7 linked regions of the Homo sapiens genome follow. The protein of the gene in region 7 purifies or fractionates together with the protein of the main gene of each other region. This does not show direct contact. Each region holds a gene or a part of one and is shown on either strand. Other genes may lie near its edges. The genes, in order: INPP5K, MKLN1, PCDHGB4, DICER1, PDCD4, ASAH1 and AAMP.

The links.
Region 1: the proteins of AAMP (region 7) and INPP5K purify together in Homo sapiens (affinity purification with mass spectrometry; 3 studies listed by BioGRID and IntAct, with this or other methods). This does not show direct contact.
Region 2: the proteins of AAMP (region 7) and MKLN1 purify together in Homo sapiens (affinity purification with mass spectrometry; one large-scale study listed by BioGRID and IntAct). This does not show direct contact.
Region 3: the proteins of AAMP (region 7) and PCDHGB4 purify together in Homo sapiens (co-immunoprecipitation; one large-scale study listed by IntAct). This does not show direct contact.
Region 4: the proteins of AAMP (region 7) and DICER1 purify together in Homo sapiens (affinity purification with mass spectrometry, with the first as the bait; one large-scale study listed by BioGRID). This does not show direct contact.
Region 5: the proteins of AAMP (region 7) and PDCD4 fractionate together in Homo sapiens (co-fractionation; one large-scale study listed by BioGRID). This does not show direct contact.
Region 6: the proteins of AAMP (region 7) and ASAH1 purify together in Homo sapiens (affinity purification with mass spectrometry; 3 studies listed by BioGRID and IntAct, with this or other methods). This does not show direct contact.

Annotation. Positions count from the first base shown.
Region 1 is NC_000017.11:1,510,113-1,513,612, forward strand, and holds part of INPP5K (inositol polyphosphate 5-phosphatase K), read right to left. Parts: intron 3,450-3,500; coding exon 3,341-3,449; intron 1-3,340. UniProt on the Homo sapiens protein: Inositol 5-phosphatase which acts on inositol 1,4,5-trisphosphate, inositol 1,3,4,5-tetrakisphosphate, phosphatidylinositol 4,5-bisphosphate and phosphatidylinositol 3,4,5-trisphosphate.
Region 2 is NC_000007.14:131,491,876-131,494,503, reverse strand, and holds part of MKLN1 (muskelin), read right to left. Parts: 3' UTR 1-2,628. UniProt on the Homo sapiens protein: Component of the CTLH E3 ubiquitin-protein ligase complex that selectively accepts ubiquitin from UBE2H and mediates ubiquitination and subsequent proteasomal degradation of the transcription factor HBP1.
Region 3 is NC_000005.10:141,386,232-141,390,497, forward strand, and holds the start of PCDHGB4 (protocadherin gamma-B4 isoform 1 precursor), read left to right. Parts: upstream 1-1,466; 5' UTR 1,467-1,653; coding exon 1,654-4,050; coding exon of another isoform or gene 4,051-4,065; intron 4,066-4,266. UniProt on the Homo sapiens protein: Potential calcium-dependent cell-adhesion protein. May be involved in the establishment and maintenance of specific neuronal connections in the brain.
Region 4 is NC_000014.9:95,088,629-95,091,529, forward strand, and holds part of DICER1 (endoribonuclease Dicer), read right to left. Parts: intron 2,738-2,901; coding exon 2,575-2,737; intron 2,482-2,574; coding exon 2,406-2,481; intron 2,036-2,405; coding exon 1,870-2,035; 3' UTR 1-1,869. UniProt on the Homo sapiens protein: Double-stranded RNA (dsRNA) endoribonuclease playing a central role in short dsRNA-mediated post-transcriptional gene silencing.
Region 5 is NC_000010.11:110,878,428-110,881,927, reverse strand, and holds part of PDCD4 (programmed cell death protein 4), read right to left. Parts: intron 696-3,500; coding exon 393-695; intron 1-392. UniProt on the Homo sapiens protein: Inhibits translation initiation and cap-dependent translation. May excert its function by hindering the interaction between EIF4A1 and EIF4G. Inhibits the helicase activity of EIF4A. Modulates the activation of JUN kinase.
Region 6 is NC_000008.11:18,077,608-18,081,107, reverse strand, and holds part of ASAH1 (acid ceramidase isoform a preproprotein), read left to right. Parts: intron 1-3,500. UniProt on the Homo sapiens protein: Lysosomal ceramidase that hydrolyzes sphingolipid ceramides into sphingosine and free fatty acids at acidic pH.
Region 7 is NC_000002.12:218,263,629-218,267,137, forward strand, and holds the end of AAMP (angio-associated migratory cell protein), read right to left. Parts: intron 3,359-3,509; coding exon 3,219-3,358; intron 2,960-3,218; coding exon 2,815-2,959; intron 2,520-2,814; coding exon 2,436-2,519; intron 2,319-2,435; coding exon 2,203-2,318; intron 2,055-2,202; coding exon 1,951-2,054; intron 1,834-1,950; coding exon 1,743-1,833; intron 1,547-1,742; coding exon 1,392-1,546; intron 981-1,391; coding exon 905-980; 3' UTR 501-904; downstream 1-500. Other genes in the region: GPBAR1 (G-protein coupled bile acid receptor 1), read left to right, coding at 1-89. UniProt on the Homo sapiens protein: Plays a role in angiogenesis and cell migration. In smooth muscle cell migration, may act through the RhoA pathway.

The sequences.
Region 1 (3,500 bases), on a different chromosome or scaffold from region 7:
ATTTGACATTGAGGCAGTTTCTCAGTGTATTTTCTCATTGATAAAGTAGGAATCCATCTCATAGATGCTGTGGGGATTATCTGAAAGCTATTATTTTTTGGTTTCAGCATTCTTTTTTTTTTGAGACGGAGTCTCGCTCTGTCGCCCAGGCTGGAGTGCAATGGCGTGGTCTCGGCTCACTGCAACCTCCACCTCCTGGGTTCAGGTGATTCTCCTGTCTCAGCTTCCCAAGTAGCTGGGATTACAGGCGCCCACCACCAGGTCTTGTATTTTTAGTAGAGATGGGGTTTCACCGTGTTGGCCAGGCTGGTCTTGAACTCTCGACCTCAGGTGATCTGCCTGCCTTGGCCTCTCAAAGTGCTGGGATTGTAGGCGTGAGCCACCGCGCCCGGCCAAGCATTCTTAAAAGGAAGGAACATAAGAGGTTTCCAGGATACTGGGAAATGCTCTTCTTTATCCCCTTCCCTTCCTCCCTCTCTCCTTGGAAATGTTCTTTATCCACCAGCTGCCCCCATTCCTCCCTTTTTACTTAGAGACAGGATTTCGCTCTGTCTACCAGGCTGGAGTGCAGTGGTGCAATCACGGCTCGCTGCAGCCTTGACATCCTGGGCTCAGGCAATCCTCCCACCTCAGCCTCCTGAGTAGCTAGGACCACAGGTGTGCACCAACATGCCCGGCTATTTTTGTTTGTTTTGTAGAGACAGGGTCTTGCCATATTGCCCAGGGTGGTCTTGAACTCCTGGGTTCAAGCAATCTCCCTGCCTCTATAATCCCAAAGTGCTGGGATTACAGGCATGAGCCACTGTACTCGGCCTGCTCTTTATCTAGATGTGGCTGATGGTAACATGGGTATATGCAAAAACCCATCAAAGTGTACACTGAATTTCTGCATGCTTTTCTGTGTACATTATAGCTCAGTGAAAAAAAAATAAGAAAATGCTCCCCCCAAACCCCATAACTATATACTGCGTGCAGCTGGGTGTCCATGAAGGCAACGCCCATGGAATGCCAGTGGGTAAGGACACATGTGCACAGGCTAGGGAGAATAGCTAACATCTGCTCAAGTGCCTCCTCTCTCATTTACTCCTGCCAAGCCTGTAAGGAATCACCGTCCCTGTTTTGTAGTTGAGGAACTAAGATTTAGGGAGGCTAAGGAACCAGTAGGGCTACCTGTATTGTAAAACAACATCAAAGGGCTAGGACTGCCAAGATCCCTACTATCTGCAGCTGCAAAAGGTGGGGTGGGAATGGGCCGCAGCCAGTAGCTCTCCCTCTCAGGTTCAGGCTGTCTACCACCGGCACCCGAGGAGCCGTTTCCGGAGAATGAAGTGTGGAGGCCAAGGAGGAAATCCCCGGGTGGGGAGCGTGTACTGGGGCCTTCCAGGAATTATGAAACTTGATCCTGCAGGCCACGAGCCCTGGCATAGCGGAGTCGAAGCAGGGGGAACCTCAAACCCAGCACTGGGTAAGGGAGGCATCAGAACTTCAGGTGGGCCAGAGGTTGCTACAGGTGTGTCCTCAAGCCTACTTCCTCCCCAGTCTTCTCTCTCCTACACCCAAGCACACGTGCCAACAGGGATGGAGGACGGGCTGGACCATGAGGGGCTGACTCCCAGGGTCAGGATTGAAGCAAGGGGACTGATAAAGACTCAGGAAAAGTTTCAGGCTTAATCCCCACCCACAAAGCAGCTTTAGGCCACTGGGTTCCACCACAAAGACACTGGCTCGCTTTGTGAAGGAGCAGCAGGGAAGTGGGGGCGGGGAGGGTGGGGTCGGGGCAGGACAGAGTTAGACTGGGAGAAAGGGTGGGGCTGTGGGAAAAGCAGGAGAGTTCTAGGGAAAGTTCTAGTTGGAGGAAATGAAGTAGGAGGAGCGAAGAAAGGACTAGCAGGAGGTGGCTGGGGGCCCTGGAGCAGTGGAAGGGGGTCAGCCCTTCTCAGTCTATAGCTGGCAAATGCACGGAGCTCACCCATCCACCCTGATTCTTGGCTGGGGAAAGAAGGGCATTCATTTTGGGTGCCAGGCCCTCAGTCTGGCCTCCCAATCTCAGTAGGCCACATGGGTAGAAAGGGCTGTGTCTCTGCCACAAGTTGAGCTAATTTCCTTGGCTCAATTCCATCCTACCAATCCTTTGCCAGTCAGCCGAGAAGCAAGGAGGCCTGCAGTCTTGGGAAGGGAGTGGCGGGTGAGAGAGAAGTGGTTGTGTCCTCTGTAAGGATCTAGCTCCCTATCTACAGAAGGAGGCCTCTGGGTTTGATGTGGAGGGAACCAAGGACTCGGGCTGGTGTTTTCTATCCTCAGCAGGAGTTCTAAACCTTAGATTCTTTCCTCCCCATTCTGCTCCCCCTCCAAAGGACACACAGCTCTTGCCTCAGTACCCCCAGGCAAACTAGGCTGACAGAATCCATTCTGAAGAACAAGAGTCATCCAGGAAGGGGAAAGAGGGAATTCTGGTATTTCTAAGCAGCTGTATACCAGGTGCTGTGAATGGGAGTGTGTTTCATTCCTCAGGTGTGCAGGGCAGAACCAAGGTGAAGGTGAAGATCTGGCAACCCAGGGCCTTCCTGTGGACTCTCCTACTGTCTAAAGACACCCCAGAGTATACTGGTCTCTCAGACTAAGAAAGCCGCCCAAAGTACCCACCACACCTGACTCCCCTCTCCTAACCTCTGGACCCCCAGAATCTGAAGTGCACGTCCCGTATGACCTGAGGATACCCTATGACACCAGCAGGCTAGCCACGCCTAAGATCTGTCAGTCTTAGAGTTCACCAGCATAGCAATAAGGTATTAGTAGTTAAGAACTTGGGTTATGAAGTTTGAGAGATCTGGATCCAAATCCCAGATAGCGCATGTGGCTTCTGAGCCATGGTTTTCTCTGTAAAATATCTCTATTTCAACAGACTTGTTAAGATTTTAAAATAACATATATACTATAAAGAGCTACTTATGATGTGTAACAACAAGTAAGCACTTGATAAATGACAGCCGTATGATTACACTCAGAGACTTCAGGATGGGCATTTGAGTAGAGACTGGTGGCTGGGGCAGCGGCCAGCACTGAGGTGATGACAAGCCCTGCTGCACCTCCCCTCAGAATCTTCCCAAGCTGAAACATATCCAGGTGTTAACCCAACCCCTGGAGACTCCAGCTCCCTCAGAAAGGCGAAGGCAGGCAGGGGCCCCGGGGTCCAGGTGGAAGGGAGGTTTAGCCCTTTAAACAAATGGGAAACAGCATGAAAGGCTGAGCAGGAGTAAGAGGAACACATCAGACCCAACAAGCAGGGGTCAGTGGAGATGTGAAAACACAGTTGTCAAGTGCCAATGAACTGGCAAGTTACCTTGATGAAGCTCAGAGGGGAAAGCACATCCATGAGGAAACTGCTCCACGAGTCATTAAAGGCAGCATCGGAAAGGAGGCTTATGATCCCAGAGTTCAATTCCTGCAAACTGACCATGCCAGCTCAGAGGCTTGGCCCCTGGCCTCCAGGCTACTTCCCC
Region 2 (2,628 bases), on a different chromosome or scaffold from region 7:
TTTGATATCTTATTAAATTTGGGAGTGAGTTGATAATTACTTGGTATTATTTATAACTTGGTATTATTTGAGGCAACACACTACAGCTGTCACTTGCAAACACCTGATGGCATGGCTCTAATGGTGTAGGATCCTCTCCTTTGTTGTAACTGAATTTATAAAGATTTATAAAGCTCTGCCAGTTGCAATGGGATTGGGATTTATTCTACACGCCTCCTCTAATTTAATCAATCACTTTACAGATGTGGAGGAAACCTAAATAAAAAACCAAAATTATGAAATACTTCTAATGCCAAACCCAGATCTCATTATTGCTTGGCAAAGCAGAATTAACAGAGACCCTTGGGATGACATATAATTAATTTAAGGCAAGGAAACTAGTATCAGTTCAATTCTGTGTTACAAGTTATACATGAAATGACAATTTTCCTCCTATGTTAAAGGGCTAGAAAATAAAACCAACCAAATGACATGAGCTAAACTGTAACAAAGGCTTTCTTGAGATTTGTTAACAACGGAGAAATAAAGCTCAAAATTGGCTTTTTGAGTGGCTCCTTATTCATGCACACAGGCTTGTTCAGTATATCACACAGTGTTTCTTCTTCCTGCCAATTAATTTGGCATTCATTAAGTAATGAATGAAACTGAAGAATGATGATCTCCTCAGGCTTTGTGTGGCAGACAGCTCAGATATCTGAGCTAACTGCTGTGACTGCTAGCATCCCAGATGGTACAGAGCTATGTTGCAGCAAGAGCTTAAACTCAGTGAATAAGCAAGGGAGCCCCCAAACTGCATGTTGAAATGTTTTATGGCTGGTTTTCCTGCTGGATCCTTAACAAGGAACTGGTTGTATGTAAGAAGCTGCTCACCTAGTTTAAGATCTAGAGCCCATTAACACTGGATTTTCTGTTTTAAGATCTCAAACAGTTATTTGGAAGAAGGGAAATGCTACTTCCCAAGAAATGCTACTTCCCAAAGACTATTCAGAATTACTGAATATTCTAGAAGCATGAGCTTTGAGGCCTTTTGGTAGTCTTCTTCCCAGCATCTCATTAACAAAATTATTTTAGGGTTAGAAATGAAGAAATTTATTTTTCCTTTCGATTTGTGGACCTCTAAAATCCATAAGCAAAAAGCTCCTATTTTTCCTTCTCTAACATACCCTCATTGTCTTCTCTAGCTCGTTCCTGAAGTTTAATACTTCCAAGTCAAAATGCCTTAGATAAGCAAAATAGGACTTTGCACACAAATGTTTAATAGTTCACTGAGGCTGTCTGAAAAGCAGATAAAAAGGAAGACATTATTTTATAATTAAAAGTGATACCTTAGAACTGGTCCAATTCCCTACCAAACATTTCCCCTTTTTTGCCATTGATCCTACAGCTTTCAGACAACATTCATGTTAAATTCTGTTTTCCAGCAAGCTCAGCAGTGTTTGGGGATAGACAGCACATTGCAAATCTTATTTCCAAATAATGATTCTAATTAAGAAGATAAACTAGGACTACCCTTTCATTTTTGTGTTTTTAAGCTGTTAAGTGGGATCCAGTTCACAATATAAAACTTTAGCCAAAAAGACAGTGATAATTTCCCCGATGGCATTTCTCTCTGCACCACTAGAGAAACTAATTTACTATAACCTCTAATGACTCCTTAGGTTAAGGGCTACAGAAGCTACCGTCAGATGATTTCATTGGCTATGACTGGCCTAAGAGTTAGTCATTTGGAATTGGAGCTAAATTCACATTCTTTTTTTTTTTTTTTTTTTGAGACAGGGTCTTGCTCTGTTGCCCAGGCTGGAGTGCAGTGTCGCAATCATAGCTCACTGCACCCCAAACTCCTGGGTTCAAGTGATCCTCCCACCTCAGCCTCCCAAGTAGCTGGGACTACAGGCACATACCACCACACCTGGCTAAAAAACAAAAATATTTTAAGTAGAGATGGAGTCTTCCTGTGTTGCCCAGGCTGGTCTGAAATTCCTGGGCTCAAGCAATCTTCCCGTGTCAGCCTCCCAAAGGTCTGGGATTACAGGCGTGAGTCACTATGCCCAGCCTAAATTCACATTCTTGAGGGGAAGAGACATATATAAGGCTGCATTATTTTTATTTAAGGAAAAAAAAAGAAAAAGAAAAGCAATCATTTCATGGCAACTGAAGCCACTTCTAATATTCAACTATTTCAGAAGTTTAAAGTCAATTCTTAACACAAATTCTAACTTCAGCAGAAATCAATGTTACTCATGGGAGGTAGGAATAGAAACAAAAAGGTTAAAAAATACAATAAAAAGAAAAGACAAAAGGTAAATGGAAATTCTGATGATATGCTGAATTCAGGAACTCTGCTATCAAACCTGTACTTTACCAATAGTTCTATGACAAGAGATCCTAATGCCAGAAAAAGAGGCCAACACAGGTTTCTCCATTAAAGCTGCCACAGCCATTATTACTATCCCCAAATGAAAATGACTCAAGTACATTTATAGCAATATCTGAATGTTATTAATTTCTTATGAATTTCATTATTCTCTTGTCATAAATAAGGATAATAGAGCATTTGCCCCAGAATGATTTTGATCTTTTTTTTTCCAAGCAATACAATGTCCTACAGAATGCCACAGAAAATCTAGG
Region 3 (4,266 bases), on a different chromosome or scaffold from region 7:
AATTCAGTTGGAAATAACCCAATCTGGGATTAACTACTTCCATATTCTTTTGTATAACATTTTAGTAAAGCTCAGTATATCAAGTGATTGTCATCCAGAAGGGGTGGATGACAAGGTAATCTTGATTCCAGAGACCTTTGAGTATTAATTAAAAACACACTTTTAGCCAGGTATGGTGTTGCAAGCTGTAGCCCACCTGCATGGGAGGCTGAGGCAAGAGGACAGCTTGAACCCAAGAATTGGAGGCCCACCTAGATAATATAACAAGACTCTGTCTCTTCAAAAAAAGACTCTTTTTAGACTAGTGTTGTATTTGGTAGTATTTTGCACATGATAGACTCTGTACAATAGTGTGGGGGATACATTTTTTTTTTTTGACATGGAGTCTCGCTCTGTCACCCAGGCTGGATACATTTTACAAGTTCTGCAGTGTTCACATTTCAGATGTACAATCACTTGGGGTAGAAGACAATGTTGCTGACACCAACAATGTTACTGAGGGAAGATCCTATGGCAGAACTACGGTTATAAGGTATTTTGTAAAAGAAAATCTCCTGACCAAAATTTATTAGATGCATAAAATTGTTTTTAAGCAATGGAGAGACATAATCACTAAACTCAGTGAGCTATTGCAATCAAACTTTCCAGGGATTGTTTCCTTCAATTCAGAGGTCACCAAGGAATGTAAAATAAGTGCAGAGGTAGGAAGCAGTGCTTCAGTGCAGCAGATCTCAGTGACTTTGTGTTTTGAGGCTATGTATTATCCCCCTGATAACTTTGAAGATGAATGTTGTATTTCATAACCAGTAAAATAATTGTGTAATGAGGAGAGGAGTAGGCTACTGCCTGTGATCATCGAAATGAGAATCACATAATATTCCTGTAATGAAATCACTGAAACTATTGGGAAGGGGGTGTATTTGAAGATAAGTATAAATTGCACCTTCTAAAAGGCAATTTTGGTATTACTGATACTCTCCGGAAAAAGTTGAAATAAATCAACTTGGAGGTACTTAGAAAAGTGGAGAAAATGTTAGGAACAATGAAAGAAAGATAAAATGTATCCAGTATATTTCTAATGAGTAAGTATGGAAAATTACTGTACTCTGAGACGGTTTAGGCCAAGTCTGTGTTATGGCTATCTTTATATAGATAGTGCATGTTTGAAGATTGGGGAAAGCTTATGTCAATAAATGTTTATGTACTTAATCTACATGATTTGCCTAAAAATCCTCAAAGTTGGGATGAAGGCATTCCTAAGAGTACATTTTTAGACGTCATTAAATATACAGACGTATCCACGTAGTTTTTGTTCTTTCAGTTAGGCACACAATTATAATTATTGCACTGGTTAACTTGAAGCAGCAGAGGCTGTAGTTTCCTAGTGCTGACTCTGGGCGCCGCTGTTGGCCAAAGTGGAGAGCTTGGCGCTCCAGATCTCCTCGCGCAGCCGCAGCGCGCTTTCCAGGGCAGCCCCAGCTCAGACTCCCCAGCGCCAGCCTTTACACCGCTTCCTCCTCGGAAAAAGAAGAATTTTTTCTTGAACTGGAACTGCAACTAAAGTCCGTTCGGAGATCCAAAAATCTGCAATACAGAGGTTATTTGTAACCCGGCGTCTCCAGGCTGGTGAGCAAGCTGAGGAGAGCAAGAGGGATGGGGAGCGGCGCCGGGGAGCTGGGCCGGGCTGAGAGGCTGCCAGTGCTCTTTCTCTTCCTGCTGTCTTTGTTCTGCCCGGCGCTCTGTGAGCAGATCCGCTACAGGATTCCCGAGGAAATGCCCAAGGGCTCCGTAGTGGGGAACCTCGCCACGGACCTGGGGTTCAGCGTCCAGGAGTTACCGACTCGAAAACTGCGCGTCAGTTCGGAGAAGCCTTACTTCACCGTGAGCGCAGAGAGCGGGGAGTTGCTTGTGAGCAGCAGGCTAGACAGGGAGGAGATATGCGGGAAGAAGCCAGCTTGTGCTCTGGAATTTGAGGCTGTTGCTGAAAATCCACTGAACTTTTATCACGTGAATGTGGAGATCGAGGACATTAATGACCACACGCCAAAATTCACGCAAAATTCCTTTGAGCTGCAAATAAGTGAGTCTGCACAGCCTGGCACACGATTTATATTAGGATCTGCCCATGATGCGGATATTGGTAGCAACACACTGCAGAATTACCAACTCAGTCCCAGTGATCATTTCTCACTGATAAATAAAGAGAAATCAGATGGCAGTAAATACCCTGAGATGGTATTGAAGACACCTTTGGACAGAGAAAAGCAGAAATCCTACCACTTGACTTTGACTGCCTTGGACTTTGGAGCTCCACCCCTAAGCAGCACTGCACAGATACACGTTCTAGTGACTGATGCCAATGATAATGCTCCAGTGTTCAGTCAAGACGTATACAGGGTGAGCCTTTCAGAAAACGTGTACCCGGGGACCACGGTGCTACAGGTGACTGCCACGGACCAGGATGAGGGTGTCAATGCCGAGATTACTTTCTCTTTCAGTGAAGCTAGCCAGATCACCCAATTTGACCTGAACTCTAACACCGGGGAAATTACTGTTTTAAATACATTAGATTTTGAAGAAGTCAAAGAATATTCCATAGTTTTGGAAGCAAGGGACGGTGGAGGAATGATTGCGCAATGCACAGTGGAGGTAGAAGTCATAGATGAAAATGACAACGCCCCAGAAGTGATATTCCAGTCTCTACCCAACCTAATTATGGAGGACGCCGAGCTGGGAACACATATTGCTTTGCTCAAAGTCCGTGACAAGGATTCCAGACACAATGGAGAAGTGACTTGTAAATTGGAAGGTGATGTTCCATTTAAAATATTAACTTCTTCAAGAAACACGTATAAATTAGTGACAGATGCTGTTCTAGACCGCGAGCAGAATCCAGAGTACAATATAACCGTTACGGCAACAGATCGGGGCAAGCCTCCCCTCTCCTCCAGTTCCAGCATCACCCTGCACATTGGTGATGTAAATGACAACGCTCCGGTTTTCTCACAGTCTTCCTATATAGTCCACGTGGCCGAGAACAACCCGCCTGGAGCCTCTATTTCACAAGTCAGGGCTTCTGATCCGGACTTGGGGCCCAACGGCCAAGTCTCTTACTGCATCATGGCCAGTGACCTGGAGCAGCGGGAGCTGTCATCCTACGTGTCCATAAGCGCGGAGAGCGGGGTGGTGTTCGCGCAGCGCGCCTTCGACCACGAGCAGCTGCGCGCCTTCGAACTCACACTGCAGGCCCGCGACCAGGGCTCGCCAGCGCTCAGCGCGAACGTGAGCCTGCGCGTGTTAGTGGACGACCGCAACGACAATGCGCCACGGGTGCTGTACCCCGCGCTGGGTCCCGACGGCTCTGCGCTCTTCGATATGGTGCCGCACGCTGCAGAGCCTGGCTACTTGGTGACCAAGGTAGTGGCGGTGGACGCAGACTCAGGACACAACGCCTGGCTGTCCTACCACGTGCTGCAGGCTAGCGAGCCCGGGCTCTTCAGCCTGGGGCTGCGCACGGGCGAAGTGCGCACAGCGCGTGCCTTAGGCGACAGGGACGCCGTCCGCCAGCGCCTTCTGGTCGCCGTGCGTGACGGTGGACAGCCACCACTCTCGGCCACTGCCACGTTGCACCTGGTCTTCGCCGACAGCTTGCAGGAGGTGCTGCCGGATATCACTGACCGCCCCGACCCCTCTGACCTCCAGGCTGAGCTGCAGTTTTACCTAGTGGTGGCCTTGGCCTTGATCTCAGTGCTCTTCCTCGTGGCCATGATTCTGGCCATTGCCTTGCGCCTGCGACGCTCCTCCAGCCCCGCCTCCTGGAGCTGCTTCCAGCCTGGTCTCTGTGTTAAATCCGAATCCGTGGTTCCCCCCAACTACAGCGAGGGGACTTTGCCTTATTCCTACAATCTATGTGTTGCACATACAGGAAAGACGGAGTTTAATTTCCTAAAATGTAGTGAGCAGTTGAGTTCAGGACAAGACATACTTTGCGGTGATTCATCTGGGGCCTTATTTCCACTTTGTAATTCCAGTGAATTGACTTCCCATCAGGTGAGTTTCCTTTAAGTATAATTTAATGCTCATTGCCTACCCATTTCTCCATATTCACAAGAAAATATACATATTTGCAGGAAAATATATAATTTTTAGATGTCATGGATCATTTTAGGAAAGTTGTAGTCAGTTAAAAAGCTGTCATATCATTCTACAAAGGAGGAGTAAAGTAGGAGCAATTGTGTGGCCCAACATTTGTTTGTTTTTTAGCCA
Region 4 (2,901 bases), on a different chromosome or scaffold from region 7:
CACCTAATTTGCTCAAAAACTCGTTTAATAATTTAGATCTCAATTTAAGTTTAAGATTGGAGACAACAAAAAACACTGGAGAAGCTTAATACCCCCCTCACTCAGGGTTCCTTAGAAAGCAGAGCTGACAGTTTTCTGTCGGTGCACTCGCACAGAGGCATTTCTCTGTGGGTGGATGATGCAGATAAAGCAGGAAGGACAGTATTCAAATGTCACTTACATATAAATGCAGCATTCCACGAAGCATCAAGTTCAGAATCATGTGCTGGGAAATATGAGACACCTCTGCTCAGCTTTCTTAAACTTCAAGCATAATTAACGGGGCAAATTGCAGCAAACCTCTACTGGTATGTTGATGGGAGTGCAAGACTGACCCACAGCTTTTAAAAAGGTAAATTAAGAGGTATTATAGTTACAGTGCAAAAAAAAAAAAATTAAAATTTCAAGCATAATACATAAACATAGCACCAAACAGGGGAAAAATGCATGCAAAAGAAAAGAAGAACTGAGGTATTTAAGTGAAGAGTGCCTACAAGTCTAATTAAAGAAACTTAGGCAAATGCCTAAAGAAGTTTTTTTTTTTTTCCTTTTCCAAAGATGGAAATAATGAGCTAGTTTATCTAAATTAATGACCTAAATCACAGATGTATCAAAATTACGGCAGTTTATCGCAAACGTTAAACTTTCACGGCATTAACAGCACAGCTTTGGTAGGTGAAATATGCATGCAACATTATGAAAAGTATAGTAAGAAATTTATGTGAGGAGACTAAGGGTAAAGGTGCTGTGTTTTGCTTCTTAAATAAGTAACCAATCAATTATAAAATCTGCAGCATATTTTAGGTGTGATATGTCTAAGGTTTATTTTGTTAGAGCAACAGCCTAGAAGGCAAAATTATTTGCCATAAACATTTCCATCAGTGGGAACTACCTGGCAGGAGGACTTTAGTAAAATGGGGTGTTTAGCCAAAGATCATTTTTATGATAAAAAATATCCGTAGACTACATATTCTGGTTTTTAAAATGTCTTCAGTATACATATGACAGAAATTTTAGTATGATCCTGTAATAAGTTACAACTATACTAGTGAGTTGTAAGTATCACGCTGTCTCAACGTCTAATGCATAATAAAATGAAAGGAATGTAAAACAGTTTGTTCCAAAAAGATCAGAGATTAAAGACTATCCATGAAGGTTTCACTTTTAAGGCAAGAACCCTTTTTTATGCAAGACTATGTGGCATCAGAAAACTAAAATGTGATTCACCAACATGCCAGCCAATGTTCATTAAAAATCTGTCCCTTACTATCAGGTGCAACAGCGACCGGGAACATCACCTTACACAGTATAACGTGGAAAGAAAAGACAACATTGGCGCACTTCTCCTCTCGAAAACCTTATCTTTCTATTCAGCTTATCAACTACTGCAGGACTGGCACTACTGCACACACGGAGAGATGGAGAAGAATCTACATCATCCTAGGGACTGCTGGAGGTTTAAGCTCCATGGCCTTCTAACACTAAGCAAAGCTGACATAAACTCAAAAAAAAAAAAACAAAACCTGTCAATTATTTTGAGCACTTGCTAAATGTCATCATTAAAGCACTCTTGTGATTTAAACAAAGCAGAAGTGAGGAAAGAAGATAAGATTGTGTTTGCGCAAAAAACTAAAACTACAATTAGTTCCAAAATTTTATACATATGTTAAATGTTTTATTCTGTTATCTATCCTGTTATCAACCAAACTTTAAATTCTGCCTTCAATTCATTCCACTCACTAACAACTTTAAGTCTTCCTTTCCGATTTAAATAATTTTCCCCTTAATTTTTTTTGTTTTGTTTCTTGTTTTGAATTTTAAAAAGCGGTTTCAGCTATTGGGAACCTGAGGTTGATTAGCTTTGAGGCTTCGGAGGGCTCTTCTTGCTGCTGCAGATTTGGCAATCCTGTAACTTCGACCAACACCTTTAAATTTCCCCTTTCCTACTACTTCCACAGTGACTCTGACCTTCCCGTCGTAAGTTCTCTCAGCCGGGCTGTAAAAAATCCAAACAGCTTGAATTAGAAGTCAGAAGTATTTATTATCATTGTCAATCAGCATTTAGTGTGCACTCTCAGGCCAGGAGTCCCATGTATAAGCTGACACCACACAAAGGAAACACGCGTTACGACTTACTGCAATTGCATACCCCCGACAGACAGGGCTGCCGTCTAGTCTTTATTACAGCATTATTTCATAAAAACAGAAGGAAAAAAGAGAAGTCAATCAGATTACAAACAGAAATCTGACAACAGCACACCACAGTGTAAATATTTTTCAGAATCATTAGTTTACAATATCTTTGTGAACTTTTCCCCTTTGATGTTTTTAAGTTAATGTTTTTTCCATGTACATTTTTTGCTTACCTAAATTTGGCAGTTTCTGGTTCCATTTCAAGCAATTCTCGCACAGGGGAACGGGGTACATTTGCAGAAAACTTTTCTGCAATCAAAATGAAAGAATAATATGAATAATATCTCTGAAGTTGTTTTTAATTTTGTGGGTTTTTTTCTTTCTAAAGGGAGCCAACAATACCTATTAGTGGCCGCATCATGGGATAGTACACCTGCCAGACTGTCTCCAGTGACATCCCACTATCCATGTAAATGGCACCAGCAAGCGACTCAAAAATATCCCCCATGGCCTTTGGAACTTCAATATCCTCTTCTTTCTCTTCATCCTCCTCAGATCTCCTAAGCTATTACAGAGGGAAAAGTGACTTGTAAGCAAAAAGGCCACTTTTACAGGCAGTCCACAGATGTAGTTTCTTTTCTTGGATATATGACTTTTGTTACTTCTTTAGTAAGGGGGGAAATACCATTTATGGTATGCCTACTATATTGTAATAGTAAAACAAATGTT
Region 5 (3,500 bases), on a different chromosome or scaffold from region 7:
ACGTTATCAATCAAATGTATATTTATTAGTAGTAGTAATGGACATAATTATATTAAATAAGTATGATGGATTTCTGACTCCTTTCAAACTTAGAGAATATACGTAAAACTCGTAACAGTGAAAAACATCAGTGTATATTTTGCTGGAAATAAATCGTTAACATTCTGCTCAAGAAAATTAAATCTACTCAAACAAGAAAAAACATCAACCTAAAGAAAAAGTGAGATGGTTCTCACATTATTACTAAGTAAAAATATATACAAACTGTAAAGCCTTACATTTTCACTTTTTGAATCTCTCTCATTCCTAGAACAAGGAAAGTGTAGTACAAGAACCAGACAATTTTTTTCCACTTGTTTATCTTCCATTTGTTGGACATGATATATACCAACCTTTCTTTGGTAGTCCCCTTCCTTTCCCAGATCTGGATCGCCTATCCAGCAACCTTCCCTTTGGACTGGTTGGCACAGTTAATCCACTTCTAAGGGCGTCACTCCCACTGTCGCTGACCGAATCGCCTCTGCCAGAGTCCCGGGATGAGTTTTTCCTTAGTCGCCTTTTTGCCTTGGCATTAATTCTAGCTTCGTTAATGGAGGATGCTGAAATCCAATTTCCATTTATTTCATTCTTTATTTCCTCAGTCCCAGCATTTTCTTCATCACCGGAAAAGAGAGAGTCACTTAAGTTATCAGGATCTTAAAGAGAAAAATGAAGAAAAAAATTCTAAGTATTTTAAGTATCTACTGTTTTATAGATATAGTGGTAAGTTAGATTAGGTTGAATCACATGACATTACCATTTTTGTAGGTAAATTACAGTCACATATTGGGAATTTCATCTACTTCAATCTAATAAACAACTAAATAAGATTACTTTTCACATTATCAAGGAAAGTAAACCAAGGCACTGAATTTTAACAAAGCATGTTTGTTTCTTACCAAAAACAAACCAAATTTGTTTGTTTTTACCAAAAGAAGCATGTTATTTCACGTTTAGATCATAAAATCTATGCTAACAGCAACACCAAATATAAAACCCTTAGACTTTTATGAGCTAATTGGAGATATTAAGAAAAGACAAAGCATCTTGAGAAGAGAGATAAACTAATATTTATAGAATGCCTACTATTAGGCACTGTGCTAGACACTCTATCATTTATTTATGCACAAGTTTGGCAGTTAATTATTATAACATTGAAGACAGATAAGGAAACTAAGGCTGAGAATGTTTAAATGATTTGCCAAACGTCCCATAACTAGGTATAAACACTTAAGAACTATTAGTAATCCAAAAGAGAATGAAAGGCATTTAGCAAATAATCGCATATGATTGTTGAGCTGAACTGCTGATGCTTTACTGCCTCAAGACAAAGTTTGCTTTCAAGAAAAGCCAACATCTCAAAGTCCTAATTCATCTCCCTAAACTTTTCTCCTATTACTTACCATCCTGTAAATCTTCCAGCCTATATAAAATTGATTCTTCTGAAAGAGATCAACATACTGGAGTTCCCAGTAGAATGTCGCCCTCACTGTTATTTTCAGTTATCAAAATCCTTTAGGATATAGCCCAAGTCTTACTCCCTGCATTAAAACTTCCCTTACAACTCTAGGTACAGGAACACTAATTGCTCACATACTATTCATTCAACACGTCATGGAAATCACTTTCTTTTTATATAGCAGTCTTTTTCTTCCAACTAAGTCATAAGCTTCAAAGGAGAAACCACAACTAGACTGTATGTCCTTCTTTGTATCCCCATCACCTAGCAGAGTGTCCTTCATACTCAAATTCCATGGAGATCAAGTGGAGGCACTTGGCTTTGCCCTGAAAGCTCTTTAAGTCAGAAAGGCTACTGAATTAGCTACCACTGGGCCACAGTTTTGTTCATTATTGTTAACGCAAATCAGAGCTGAATCACTCAAATCATTTTCTATATGCCTAAAGATAATTATAACATGTCAGGTCTATGTGCATGGGCTTTAATATGTTTTAAGACATGTTGAAACCAAAAATTTTCACCAACCTATAAAAAGCATACATGTGTTTAAATCTTTACAATTCTTGACATACTTAGGAAGGTAGGAATGTTTTGTTTTAAACAAAATCATCAATTAGAGCCAAATTATTTCACTAGTCTCATAAGTAGTCTCCCTGCCTCCAGTCTTCAAACTATACTGAATGAAGACTGATTTTCTCAAGCATGCCCTCACTGAAGATCCTTTAAAAGTAGTCCCATTATGTCACAAAAAATGTAAACTTTTTTTTTTTTTTTTTTGAGACAGCGTGTCGCTCTGTCACCCAGGCTGGAGTGCAGTGGTGCAATCTCAGCTCACTGCAAGCTCTGCCTCCCGGGTTCACGCCATTCTCCTGCCCCAGCTGGGACTACAGATGCCTGCCACTACGCCTGGCTAATTTTTTTGTGTTTTTAGTACAGATGGGGTCACCGTGTTAGCCAGGATGGTCTTGATCTCCTGACCTCGTGATCCACCTACGTCGGCCTCCCAAAGTGCTGGGATTACAGGCGTGAGCCACCGCACCCAGCCAAAATGTAAACTCTTTACCTTGTAACTTAAGGTCCTTTATGATCTTGCCCCTGCTTACCTCACCAGAATCACTGCTAACTACTCCCACACTCAAATTGTCAGAGCTTAAGTTAGATATCATAGGGAAGAGATGGGAGGGATTCATTTGGCAGAAGAATACTGAGTATATTACAAAAAGAGAAAGTATAAAGTAGGAAACCGCTAAGAAAATGCTTCAGTAATTCAGTCACAAGCTAACTGGTAAAGAGCAAGGGTAGTAACTGTGGGATAAATAATAATGTTACACTTTTAAAGAAAATAATGAAGGACTTTTAAGCAGAATGTATCTAGGATTAAAGAGAAGTCAAACAATGCCTTAAAAGTTTTCAAACTGGTAAGAAGCCGGTGTTAGGATGGTGTGTTTGGGACATCATCATAACCATCAGTAGTAATTATAGTCTTAGTGGAAGTAGTCGTAGTACTGTTTCTTTCATCATTACCATTACTATTGTCATCTATTAGATACCAGGTTCCACACTACCTGGTACCTATTAGATTCCACACTACCTGGTACCTATTAGCTAAGGCACTTTACATATGTGGTCTATAAGCTTCAAGAGCTCTAGAAAGAAACTGTTTATCCTCATTTTACAGAAGGAATGTGTTTCACAAGAAGTTACATATCTAGAAAGGATTATGGCTAGAATTCAAACCCACATTTTTAATCCCATATAACTACAGAAAATACAAAACTAGAATACAGCAGAGTATTGACAGCTAAAGAGACGAACAAGGGCGTGAATGTAAAGAGAGATAAACAAAAATGATTAAGTGGAAGGGGACAGAAAGATCAGGATCACATAAATTAGATGACATTTTCGTGTAAGAGTGGATGGTTGAGAAAAACATTAAACATCTACCTGTAACATAGTGCTTTCATCATTGTGCCATTAAGGTGAACCACAAAACTGGTCCAGA
Region 6 (3,500 bases), on a different chromosome or scaffold from region 7:
GTTTTCATTTGGGGTGTATGTTAAATTTCAGGTGGCAGAGAGGCATCCAGCAGGCCACTCGGACTGGCACTCAGAAGAGAGACACTGAGAGTCACTGGCATAATGATATTATATTTGAAGCCCTTGGAGCAGATGAACTTACCTAGAAATAGGATAGAGAAAGAGAAGAAAAGAGAACTAGGCAAAGGCTAAGTAACTTGCACATGTATGTGTCAAGAAGAGGAGAAATTGCCAAAGTTAAAACAGGACAGGCCGGGCGCGGTGGCTCATGCCTGTAATCCCAGCACTTTGGGAGGCCAAGGTGGGCAGATCACGTGAGGTCAGGAGTTTGAGACTAGCCTGGCCAACATGGAGAAACCCTGTCTCTACTAAAAATACAAAAATTAGCTGGGCATAGTGGCTCACGCCTGTAGTCCCAGCTACTCAGGAGGCTGAGGCGGGAGAATTGCTTGAACCTGGGAGGGAGAGGTTGCAGTGAGCCAAGATCCTGCCATTGCACTCCAGCCTGGACAATGAGCGAAACTTCGTCACAGAAAACAAAAACAAAAAAATAGGAGAGTAAGTGGAACAGGAAGCTCAGGGAAGAGACTGGGACAGGTTAACTATGTTGAATATTATTGAGATGTCAGTGGTATTATGATGTTGGGCAACTGGAGGTCATTGGTCACCTCGACTGGAGCAGTGTTGGGGGCAGAAAACAGCTTGCGGTAGGCTAAGTGTGATTGGCAGGAAAGGAACTAGAGGGGAGAGATGGCTGCTCTGCGTAATAAATCTGACCCACTTCATAAGATGTGCGAAGATGAAACGTAATGGCTTAGTAATTAATTGCCAAAGTAAACTTGTAAACTCATTTTTATGCATCAGCTTCTCATACTAGTTAACAGCGTATGTCAACATTGTTGACATTAGCTATTGAATCAGCTTTAGCAATGATTTTCACGCAGTTGCCAGAAATCTCATAGACCCCATCTGGCCTAGGAATTTATTGCACTTCATCTGCTTTTCCCTACTTCTCCCAAAGAGGGAACACACAGGTGTAATCCATTCACTTATTCAACAAATACTGCTTGCCTACTATGTGCCAGACTCCTAAACGCTGGGAATGCGTCAGCCAATGAGATAGATGAGGTCCTTCCTCTCATGGAGGGTTTATTCACATTCCTTTGACCTAAATATCAGTAGCTTAATAGGATGCCATCCCATCAAAGCCCAGAAGACAAGTGAAAACATTTTCAAGCTCATGTGAATTCTTGTACACGTAGGAAACATGCCTCTTTGTATTCAGTGTTTCTGCTGAGTTGTACATAAGAGGACATTATAGGAAAAACTTGTCTGCAAAATAGTTGTTGATGAATTCAAGAATTGAATGAATGAAAAATTGTCTGGCTAGAGTTGTTTGGCTTCTGGTGGGTATGAAAACTGACATGAGGTATGTAATTTTAGATTATCCTTCATTGTCTCTTTCTGAGTATTTCAATAAGACAAGCACACAAGGGCTTTCTGGACTTTTAAAATTCACTATTAGAAGCATACATTATTTCATTGAGGGTCTCCTAATTCTTTCGGGCTCAAATATTTTAAGGAGCTGTACAAGTTATGCCATTTTTTAAGGGTATGGCGCTTTCATTGAGACCTTAATGTTCTCTTTATATTTTTGTGTTTTTTTTAGAATGTTGTGTTCAGTAGCTCTGTAATTAATTTCTCTTAATGAATGGGGAGGACATTCAAAGAGGCTTAAGTTTCTATCAAATAACCAGAAAAATTAGAGAATTTTCTGACCCAAACAGTCTTTTAAAAGCACTTTCCAGAGAGTTTTTTGTTTTTTTTTTTTTTCTGAGATGGAGTCTTGCTCTGTCTCCCAGGCTGGAGTGCAGTCACACTATCTCGTCTCACTGCAACTTCCACCTCCCGGCTTCAGGCAATTCTCCTACCTCAGCCTTCCGAGTACCTAGGATTACAGGCACATGCCACCCAGCTAATTTTTGCATTGTTAGTAGTAACGGGGATTTCGCCATGTTGGCCAGGCTGGTCTTGAAGTCCTGACCTCAGGTGATCCACCCACCTCAGCCTCCCAAGGTGCTGGAATTACAGGCATGAGCCACCATGCCTGGCCCAGAGAGTTTCAAATGCATTGAAATATCAGATTTTTACCACTTATCTTCACTCTTAGGAGACCACTGAGGGGCAGGGAGAAAGGTAGGGAAGGGCAGGGAGAGAGAGAGAAAGAGAGGTACTGTGGGGAGAGGGTTAGAGAGAATTGATTCTAAGTTGGATTTTGTTTCCTGTGATAGGGTGTACATAGTATACCATCCAGACCACATAATCTCTCTTCTTATCATCTGTTTCTAATCTTTACCTATCATCTATTTAAGTTTTTACCTGCCTTAATAGAGTTGTCTGTTATTAAACTGTTTATAAACTTGGGGATAGTAAGGAACTTTAAATAACATTAAGTAAGTTCATTATAATTCTGTTTTAGGGCTACTCGTGGGTTTTGAAGCTGTGTCTCCCTGTAGAATTCTTTTTTGAGGGGGAGGAAGTAGCTCTTTTTTCCACCCTACCCCTAAAACTAACCTTTTTGCATAAACGACTTAGGCGTTCATGCCATGTGAGCCCCTGAAATACTGTAGTCTCATAGCTGCCAACTTTCTTATTTTCTGTCACACTTATCCTATTTCCTTGCAGCCAGGTTCTATGCCAATTTCACGTTTGTTTATTGCTACCAAGAGTCGTTATCAACCTCAGACTCACTCCACATGTATTGTTGCTAGCTTGCTCTTTAGTTCTTACCTCTGGGGCAGGTCACATTCTCTCCTAATACTAGACAGAGCATTTTCAACTTTGCTCACAGTTGTCTAGTAAGAAATGTGCCTGTAATTTGATGTTTATTTTGGCTTTGGAACCCAGGGCGTGCAAATGTCATTATTAGGAAGGGATAGGAGTCATTACGTTTCACTTAATTTGCCGAGTTGATTCTAGTGATCACCAGAAGCCCTGAACTACGCGCAGATTATTCTGTTAGGAATTAAATTGAGGCATTGGTTTTATTATCTCTGTGGGAAGCTGTTTGATAGAACAGGGAAAGCCATTGACTCTGATTCTGTCACCAGCTGTGTAACTTTCTACAAGTCACTAATGGAGCAGGGTCTTAAGTCCACAACATGATCATAAAATTAAGCACTTGGGTTAAGTACCCATCACAGTATTCCCAACTCATAGGAAAACAATGGTCAGATAAACAAGAAAATGTAAAGCGGAGTATCTCCTCACAGCAGAACTTATTTACAAATTTTACAAAGTAAAATTAAGTTGCAACCCCTATAAGTCTCTAAGTAGCTCATTTATTAGCAAAATAAGGAAAGCCATTTACCAATGGTGGATTACCTAAATTGTATTCGATTGTAGTAGCAGAAGTATTGTGTCCAGGGAAAATGAAATTATTTTACATGTCATTGAGAACCCTTGTCCTGGACTTTGGGAAGAACATCAATATCAATTAA
Region 7 (3,509 bases):
TGTGGGGAAGAGCCTCCCGGGACAGTCCCGGCCCCAGCATTGCCTACCACCCAAGCAGCCAAAGCAGTGTCGACCTGGACTTGAACTAAAGGAAGGGCCTCTGCTGACTCCTACCAGAGCATCCGTCCAGCTCAGCCATCCAGCCTGTCTCTACCGGGCCCCACTTCTCTGGATCAGAGACCCTGCCTCTGTTTGACCCCGCACTGACTGAATAAAGCTCCTCTGGCCGTTTATGATTATCTCATTCCATATCTCAGGGCGAGGCAGGAGGAAATGGCTCAACACACCAACAATAGAAAGAACCTACAGACATACGCGTGGATTAAGGCAGAGTCCGACTCCAGGCAGGCAAGAAGTGTCGTGCGCACAGACCACCCCTGGAGATGGGGAGCTGGCACATCTCAACATCCAGCCGATTCTGCGGGACAGCCTTGCCCTGACGGGGCCCTCGCTAGCTCCTCCTAGGGTCCAGCCATCACAAAATCCACACAGACTCTGTCTCTGGGAAGTATATTTTATTTACATTTTTAAAATCTTTAACTAGTATCTCTTCCTCCTTTCCACCCCCAGAGACTTGGGAAGGGAAAGAACGGGAACCTCAAACACCTACTCCCCACATACAAATACACACCCCATGGCTCACACCAGCAAATGAAAGTGAAAGAGAAACAGGTCCACCCCTCCCTCTGAAGGGCCCACCAGGTCTGGACAAGGGTGGGAGGGCCCTGGGCTGGGTCTCTAAAGAGAAGAAAAGGAGAGGGGAGCAAGTCAGTTGAAGAGGCTGGAAAGTCATCCAGGGCCCCACCCTCCTCTTCCCTCTGTGCCCTACTGCCTCTGCTGGCAGACAGGGGCAGGGGTCCCTTCGTCCCCTCAACACCAGACACACAGGCAGGGGCTGCAGCCATTAACGGTCAGGCCTTTGGACACAAAATACTTTCGCTTTGTGGTCTCCTGACGTGGTCACCACCAGGGAGGCATCTCTGTAAACAGAAAGCATGTGATTGCAGAGACTGGGGGACCCAAGCCCACCACCTAGGGGCCCTAGGGTGGGCTCCTCCAGCACACCCTCAGTTCTAGGGCCCTAGTGCCTAGCACTGGGCCGACATCTCTGCAGCCAGCATGGAGGGGATTAGAGGAAGCCCCCAGCACGGGAGAAGCAGAGCTGACTCCGATGGGGAAAATCAGTCTCAGCCTCTCCCTCATGACTGAGACGTGGGGCCCCGGAGGGTCACTGTCAGCCACTGGAATGGGGGCTGGGCTGTGAACCCTCAGGCTTCTCTGCATTCCTGCCTTAGGAATCCCTTCCCACACCCCAAGGATCCTGTGTCCCCTACATACTACTGCCACCTTCCAAATACACAAAGATCCCAGCCCTTGGCCAATTCACTTACTTGCTGAGGGCAAAGTCCAGGATCTCAGCCGTGTGGCCCCGGTAGTCAGTAAGCAGGCGGCCGGTCCGGGCGTCCCAGAGGCGCACGATGCCATCCAGGCTGCAGGTATATACCACGGCAGTGCCTGCCTCCCACAGCAGCTGCACGATGCCCGACTGCCCCGAGGAATGACAGAGGCAGGGCGGAGGTTGGCAGGAGAGCTGAGAGCCATCTGCTCCCAATTCTCAAAGAGGGACAGCCACACACAAGGGCCAGGCAGGAGCCAGATCTGGGGTAGATGCTCCTGGAGGCCTGGGCTTCCCCACCACTATGGACACAGCCCACAGGGACCCCAGCTCCAGCTGCCCATACCTGGTGCTGACACTGATGCCTAAGAGTCTGCGTAGCCAGGTCATAGATGGCCAAGGTCCCATCCAGGTAGCCAACAGCTGCCAGGGGCATCCTGGCCAGAGGAGCGTACCATGAAGACTCATGAGGGCCTGGACTCACACGCCCTGCCGTCCTCCCGGGCCCCCAGCCCAGGCCCCTCCCACAAACCCCTTTCCCCATCCTCACTCACACACTGCAGAAGCCCAAGGACTCCACCGAGTTGGACTCACTCTCCTCCCCTTCTCCCAGGCTGGGCTGGGAGGCCACAGTCTCAGGTCTAAAAACACCCACCACCTGAAAGCCAGAGAGGATCAGAGGAGGACACGGAATCCGGGTGCTTGATGGAGAGAAAGACGGTGGGGAGAGGAGACAGTGAAGACCCAGGAAGGAAGGAGAGGAGTCGGGAAAGCGGAGGCCCCAGCCGGGCTCCAGGTCCACTCACCTTGCCGGTGGTGGCACTGACCAGCTTGGCCTGGCAGTCCACAGAGCCAGTTAGGATCAAGCTGCCATCCTGGTTGGCAGCAACACAGGTGAGTGGGCCCTGGTGACCCTCAGTCCCTAGCATAGAGCAGGGAGGCAGCTCAGGCTTCGTCCTACCTCCCCTCTGAGTCCTGCCCCAGGTTCTCAGCCCCTCCCTACAAAGGCCCAGGCTAACACTTCCCCCACCTCTGATACCTTTCAGTACATGGATAGGGCTTCCCTGCTTCAGGTCCCAAATCCTGATGGTCCCATCTTCATAGCCTACCACAGCTCTCTTCCCTGAAGAGAGGCACAGATGAAGAGAGGGCAGAGGGCACGCTCACATACACTAAGCAAGGGAATGGGGAGAGGGAGAGGAAAGAAGAGTGGAAGGGCCCAGACACTGCCCCAGGAATCACAGGTGAGTTCAGAGCAGGAAGGAGGCGCTGTGAACTTTGGGGCCCAGGAGGTCAGCACTGCAAACAGCAGGCCTCAGATTTTGCCGGCTGTGACCCAGAAGGCTGCTCTGGGAGGTGTATATCCCGGGATTCGGCCTCTGCACCCAGGAAAGGTCACTCAAGGGAGGTGCTCTCACCATCAGGGAGGACTCGGCCACAGGTGGCTGGGCAGTTGGGACCCTGGAAGGTCTTGCAGTCACCATTCGGGACTTTCCACATCCAGGTGTTGCCGTCAGCTGTGCCCGCCAACAGGACAGGTGCCCGAGGATGCCACTCCATCCACTGGACAGGGAGGAAGGGGCAGCAGGGAGGCCCGTCACCCCATCCCACCTAGAAGCCTGCCCCATGAGCTCCACCCAAGGTTTCCTGCCTCTGGGGTTCCGCGGGGACTTTCCAGGTAGCAGGTAGATATTCTTCCTGTGCCTTGGGGCGCATTGGCTCAGAGCTGGCTTGGCGCAATAAAGGCAGAACTGGCCTCCCAAGCTTGCACCCCCAACAACCCAAGGCCCCACAGAGCTGACTCCCGCTCTGATGATCTTACCTCCAGGTCTCCCGCTTCAAAGGACCAGACCTCCTCCTTAGTGTCCACCTGCCACACTTTCAAGAGGCCACTCATGTCCCCTGTGGCCACTAGAGTGGAGTCATGGCTGAAACCAGCACAAGTCACAGAGTCTTTATGGCCTTCAAAGAAAAGTGGGCAGAAAACAGAGGAAAAAAATAGGGTACCTGGTGCTGGGGGCATGTGATTCTGGTATCTGGCCCACTGAAAGGACCAGCTAGGAAAAAAAGAGGGGCGGGACTGAGCAGAACAGGTGCTGGAACTCACCACCAC